Linked DNA regions of Homo sapiens: region 1 is reported to be linked to region 2. Evidence: microRNA targets listed by miRTarBase, many of them from high-throughput screens and not tested one by one. Region 2 holds a microRNA gene; the other region holds the end of a gene's coding sequence.

Region 1 (3,000 bases), not on the chromosome of region 2:
ACTCTGCTTCACGTGGACTGGGCATGCCCCTGCCCCAACGTGACCGTGAGCGAGATGCCGCTCATCATCATGGGGGAGGTGGACGGCGGCATGGCCATGCTGCGCCCCGATAGCTTTGTGGGCGCATCGAGTGCCCGCCGGGTCAGGAAGCTTCGTGAGGTCATGCACAAGAAGACCTGTGACGTCCTCAAGGAGTTTCTTGGCTTGCACTGAAGCCCCCCACCCCTCCCTGCCCCCTCCCTGGCCTTCTTCCACCTATCCACCCCAATGCCTCTCAGCAAACTGGGCGAGGTCAGATTAGACAGGCTTGGGACAGCAGGGAAACATCAACCGACGTGTCACAGAAAAAGCCACAGAAGGTCTCAGATCAGCATCTATTCTTTGGGTTCAATAAGGGGTTCATATCTTTTTTAGCTGAGGGGGACAAGAGGAGAAGTCAGTGGACACATGGAAGTTACTCGTGACCACCAGCTTGCTCAGATATTCTCCTCCTCCCCTCACTGGCCCCACACCCCTGGCTCTCCCAGTCACCCTCCCCTAGCCAGTCTCCCAGCAAGGGTTTAAGAGATGGCCGCTGTGTGCTGGTCACAGGAAGTGTTGAATGGATTGGCTTGCAAAGGGGGTAGGTGGGGAGAGATAGGAGGGCCCAGGGACTCATGGGACACCTTTCCCACAGCCTCCTCGATTGCTGTGAGCAGAGGCCACTCGGAGTTAGGGGCATGGGCAATAGCAAGCTGGCGGCAGAGTCCAGCCCAGCATATGACTTGCCCTGAATGGAAGCTGCTGAAACGGGTGCCTTTGGGTGGTGGTCGGCTTGCCTCTGAGGCCACCACGGCACCAGCAGAATACGTATTTCTTCTCCTTGGCTGCACTGGTTTGTCGATCTAGTTCAGTTCAACTCAGTGGATGTTCTCTGAATGCTTACTGGGTGCCAGGACCACAGAGAGATGTTAGTCACTGCCCAGTTCTTAGAGCCCCAACACAGATACCCTCATCCCAGGGCCCCCAGACACACCCCTCCGCTGGACTCACAACTGTCTGGAGTTTCTGTCTGATGGATGGTGTGCTTTCATATGCCACTGGCTTCCTTGGACATAGATCAGACAAAAGCCCCGGGATCTGTTTGGTAGCAGGAGAAATGAAGGAAGATGAAAAAGCAGGCAGGGAAGGGGGTAGTAAAGGACTGAGAGAGGAGGGAGGTGGCTGGAGAAGGAAAAGGAACATTGCTCGATGCTCCCATCTGGTGGCGGCCTCAGGAACCCACGGGAACCTGGAAGGAGGCTCTTTGTGAGACCTGGGCAAAGGATGGGGCAGCTCGTCGATGATTTTTTTGTGTTTCCAGGCTTCCTGTGTGATCCTGGCCCTCCGGCCGCTAGAGAGAGGATTGGGAAACCCCACTGTCAGCTCTGCATCTGCCCCCACTACCCTCCTCTGCCCTATTCTGTCCCTGCCCCTCCAAGCTGAAGAAGGTCCTTGTGGGGCGTCCTCATTTCTTCCTCAAATATAAGGAGGAAGATACCAATTAAAAGCTCATAGTATCAACTGCCCTTCTTGTGTGATTCGTTTGGGTTATGATGGGGGAGGGAGGGAGGTGGGTAGTGTCATTTGCTTTGGTGACCTTACAAGAGGGAAGTCTGGCCACTGGGAGCATCTTTGGGGGATGGAGAGATGCTGGTAATATGTGGGCCCCTTTTGCAGCTCCAAGGCCCCTTAACTGATGCTCAGCTCAGCTCCGTGAGTTAAGCTGAGGTCAGAGAGGTGAGGTGACTTGCCAAGAACACAAAGGCAGGAAGGGGTGGGTGGCCCAGCCCAGGTGTTCTGATCTGTAACCTGCTCTCACCCCAGCGTGACAGCACAGTTGGTCAGGTGCAGTGTCCAGACCCTTCCACCAATGGTGTCAAGTTCAGAGGCAAGAAGGTGGAGGAGATGGGAACGGAGCAGGCAAGGACAGCTGCCAGCTGTGACTCACTAGGGGGCCTCTAGGTGAGGCCTGGTCCCAGGAAGACTGTGTCAAAGCCCTAGGTAAGGTCAGGGTGTGGGGCTTGGTTCCCAGAATGGGGACAGCAGTGCCTTTGGCCCCAGGAAGGCCCACAGCAGCTCCCGAGGCATGGAGACGTGTTCAGCCATGGCACACCCCACAGCCTGTTTGTCCCCAAGAGACACCACTTCCCTGCACAGTTGCCTGTGTTTTCCCGGGCCCCAACCCAAAAGAAGAATCCAGGCCCAGCCTAGCCTGGCCCAGCCCATCTCATCTGCAATAAGGGCGTGAGGAGGAGGTCGGGAGCAGGAAGAACAGAGGCAGAGGATCCAGGGTTTCTCAAGTTGACATCGGGAGAACACTGAGCACAAAACTTAGCCACCAAAGTGGTGTGAGCAGCAGCCACGGGTCCCCACCCTGCTCAGGTCAGGTAACCAAGGAGGGTGAGGATGGTCTCACCCTGTCCTCAGAGGCCCAGGGACATTCTGTGCACCTGCTTCCAGCTCGAGCTCTAGCACATTACCATGCAAGCTGTGGGGGCAATTGTCCACATGCCAGCACCTGTCACCTCCCTTTTCAACCCCATTTGCACAGATACGGGACCTGAACGTGCGGCTGGGCCGGGACAGCAGGGCCCCCAGTCGCACGTCTGCTTCCCTGATGAAGGTGTGAGGTTCAGGAAAATCCCACTGTGGGGCTCCCTCTCACCAGACCACTGCCCACATACAGCCCCAGACCTGGGATCCCTGTCACACTCCAGCCCCACCTGGCAGAGCGAGAAAACTCAGCCCGTGAAGTCAGACTTGCCTAGGTCTGAATCTGGGCTCTGCTGCTTACCTGCAATCTCTCTGAGTCTCTGTTTCCTCATCTGTAAAACAGAGGGTAGTAAGATCACTCTACAAGAGGCTTGGGAGCTGGGCCCTATTAACCGGGTACAACTGGAAAGCCCAGGAAGGAGGACCTGGCGCCGAGTGGCTGCCCCCTGCCCCCTCCCACCCTCGGCAGCTCTCAGCTCAGAACAG
Region 2 (3,192 bases):
CCACAGTTATAATTCATCATGATTCCATGAAATTGCAGAGCTACAGGTTCACACAGATTAAGTTATATTTTGTTCCCACTTTATCCTCAGGCAGCAAAATATGTTACATATGTTTCAACAGCAATATTGAAATAGAAAAGTGTTTCCTATTAGACCTGAGCAAATCAGAAAACAAAATAACCATGAAAATCACAGTTCTCAAATAATTGACTTGTAATTTTATCCTATGTATATAATGTTTGTAGGCGGTCTACTAGGGTACTTCAGTTGTTATTTTAGAGAATATGATAGGCGAAAACTCAGAAGCCCAGAGATAGAAAATAATTAACTAAGATCAGTAAGAAAGTGACCTTAATATAAATGAACTGAGGCAGGCAAAGAAGTCTATCAGATCAGGAAACATTTGATTTGGATCATAATCAAATAATCAGAATAATTTTATTCATTCTCAGTCATAAGAAAGTTAAGAAGGTAGCATAAACAACATTTTTATCATATTTTCCCTTTTAGATTGAACATACTTTTTTGAATAGTGGTGTGTACCAATCATTCTGCAATGTGCTTTGATAGACTACCATATTTCATGATTGCATTCTCTGCTCCTTTTAGGCTACAGATCAGCAGTTTTCATGTTTCACCCCTGTTTCCATTAGAAAAGCAATTCAAGTTAGATATAATATTTAAAATGTAGGTTTTCGTTGTTGATGATAACTGTTTCACTCTCTCTTGTTTCATCTAAAAAACACAAAAGTCTTGTTTTAAAACAACCATTGTATGATCACGACTAGGTCAGCAATTGAGCAGGATTTATCACAGATGGCTCATCTCTGCTCCATATGGCTGGGGTGGCTTGACTAGGGCTACACTTACATGCCTGGAACTGGAGGGTAACCAGTCAATTGGGGGTACCTGTGTTCCCCACATGGCCTTTTTCTGCAGCAGAATAGTCTAGACTTCTTTATCTCTTGGCTGGGTTCCCCGCCTACAGACGTGGAAGCTGCAAGTCTTCTTTAGGATCAGACTTGAAAGACTCAGACATCATTTCTGCCTCATGGCGTTGGTAAAAGAAAGTCACAGAACCAGCTCAGATTTAAGTTTGGGAAATGGATTTTGCCTCTTTACGGGAGAAGTAGCATGCACATACACATAGGCATGGGAGAAGTTTGCGGTGGCCATCTTCACAACCTACCACAATTATAAGACGAAAGCATATTTTAAGTTTAAAAATTTACATTATCTACATTTTCATTCTCTGCTTTCTTCCTCCTTTCTTCCACAGATGCCTGTATATTATTACCCATCTGGTCAGTACCCTACCTCAACCACGCAACAGTACCGGCCCATGGCCCCGGTTCAGTACAACGCTCAGAGGAGTCAACAGATGCCACAGGCAGCACAGCAAGCAGGTACTTGGAATCTGTTTCCCATTTGCTTCTCAACCCAGTTATTTTTGCTGGTGAATCTTGTACTCTTTGGATGAGTGTCCAAGCTTGGCAATTTAAACCAGCACATTTTCTCTACCCAGAGAAGATAACAAAGCATTTGATTGACTCTGTGTGGAAAAGTAGTAGGTACAAGAAGGTGAAGCATATGTCAGACTAGCATCCCTGGCATGCATGTTAAACAGTCTCCATAAATTATTTTTTGATCCTTCTTCTGTTAAAGCAGAAAGTCAACCATGTCCGTACCTTTCTAGTTCATACCTTCTTTTAATTTTTTTTTTCTTTTCAATTTGAAGAGAGTGCTTCCTCTGTTCTTAAGGCTAGGGAACCAAATTAGGTTGTTTCAATATCGTGCTAAAAGATACTGCCTTTAGAAGAAGGCTATTGACAATCCAGCGTGTCTCGGTGGAACTCTGACTCCATGGTTCACTTTCATGATGGCCACATGCCTCCTGCCCAGAGCCCGGCAGCCACTGTGCAGTGGGAAGGGGGGCCGATACACTGTACGAGAGTGAGTAGCAGGTCTCACAGTGAACCGGTCTCTTTCCCTACTGTGTCACACTCCTAATGGAATGCCGTTATCCAAAGAGCAGCACGAACCCGACAGGGCTGAGTGGCTTGTGCTAGGGAGAGGTTTGTGTCATTCCTGCTGACCAAACTGCAGGAAAAACTGCTAATTGTCATGCTGAAGACTGCCTGACGGGGAGACTCTGCCTTCTGTAAGTAGGTCATGTAAAGAGCACGTGCTCCTTGCTGCTACTCATAGATGCCTGCTCCGTGATCTGATTTCTGCACTGAATCTATGTTATGCATATGGAATGTATACAGATACATGTATGTAATATATACACAATATGTACCATTTTTATAACCTATGAGAAAAGTGCAGTTCTTGCCAAGGATTAGCACCAATCACAGACATCCTAAGAATACCAATGCTGACACTGCTAGCATCCTGTCAGATTGGAGAAAGAATTAAATTCCCCCGTATTGTGGATGGTTACATGTTCTTTGGTTTATCTCATGGCCTATTTAAAGTCTGTGGGAGAAGAATTAGAGAAACCTATATCTTCCAGCCAGATTTTGTCTTGTTTCAGCACTGTATTAGTTTGGGGAAGAATATATTTGACCTCTGAATTGACTTTAGACTTTTACAGTGTTTTGAGAACACTAAAGGGTTTCAAATAACTATTTATTTTTAAAAAATCACTTGGCAATATTTTCTCTAATTTGTGGAAAACGTTATTACCTTTATCATTTTGGTGGTAACGGTGCTATCAGTTTAGATACATGCTGTAGAAATGTGTTGCTTGCATTCTGGACTATCTTATTTTATGCTAACGTTAATTAAAGGGTTAATTTACAATCTTGAGGATCTTGGTTTAGAGGCTATGTGCAAGTTTTCTACTTGGTTACTAATGCCTTTAGAAGAAAAAAGATGCAGATATCTAATTATAATGATTTTTATTAGGTTTGGTGCCATTGTGTGGCAATTTTTAAAGAGATTATTTCAGTCTTGTGGTAGAGTGTCATCATACAAAGAAACGCAGTTACAAAACATGCTGCAATCCACTAAACCCATAAACTCTAGATCTATGTGAGGGGATGAGAAAGTTAGATGAATATGATAACTGGGCAACAGAATTAGATTTCAAAAAAGTTTAGGCCTCCCCCACTGACTTCTCCATTGCTTTTTCTCCTCTTCACTAACTTTGTTAGTGGATGTCAAAACAAGAGACAATATATGAGG

What was found. Region 2 holds the annotated microRNA hsa-miR-128-2-5p (GGGGGCCGAUACACUGUACGAGA, at 1,931-1,953, shown strand). A microRNA usually pairs through its seed, bases 2 to 8, with sites in the 3' UTR of a target mRNA and lowers its output. Matches are read on the target gene's strand: a 7mer-m8 pairs with bases 2 to 8, a 7mer-A1 pairs with bases 2 to 7 and ends in A, and an 8mer does both.
Region 1: miRTarBase lists WFIKKN2 as a target of hsa-miR-128-2-5p. Seed matches in the 3' UTR shown: 7mer-A1 at 503-509.

The regions. Positions count from the first base shown.
Region 1 is chr17:50,840,807-50,843,806 of GRCh38, forward strand. It overlaps WFIKKN2 (WAP, follistatin/kazal, immunoglobulin, kunitz and netrin domain containing 2), which reads left to right. Exons shown (of 2, transcript NM_175575.6): 2 at 1-1,547. The coding sequence ends at 213. Among named protein-coding and RNA genes, the nearest start is that of WFIKKN2, 6.7 kb to the left of the region's middle.
Region 2 is chr3:35,742,560-35,745,751 of GRCh38, forward strand. MIR128-2 (microRNA 128-2) reads left to right here and starts at 1,917; the gene lies at 1,917-2,000. ARPP21 (cAMP regulated phosphoprotein 21) reads left to right here. Exons shown (of 21, transcript NM_001385562.1): 19 at 1,280-1,406.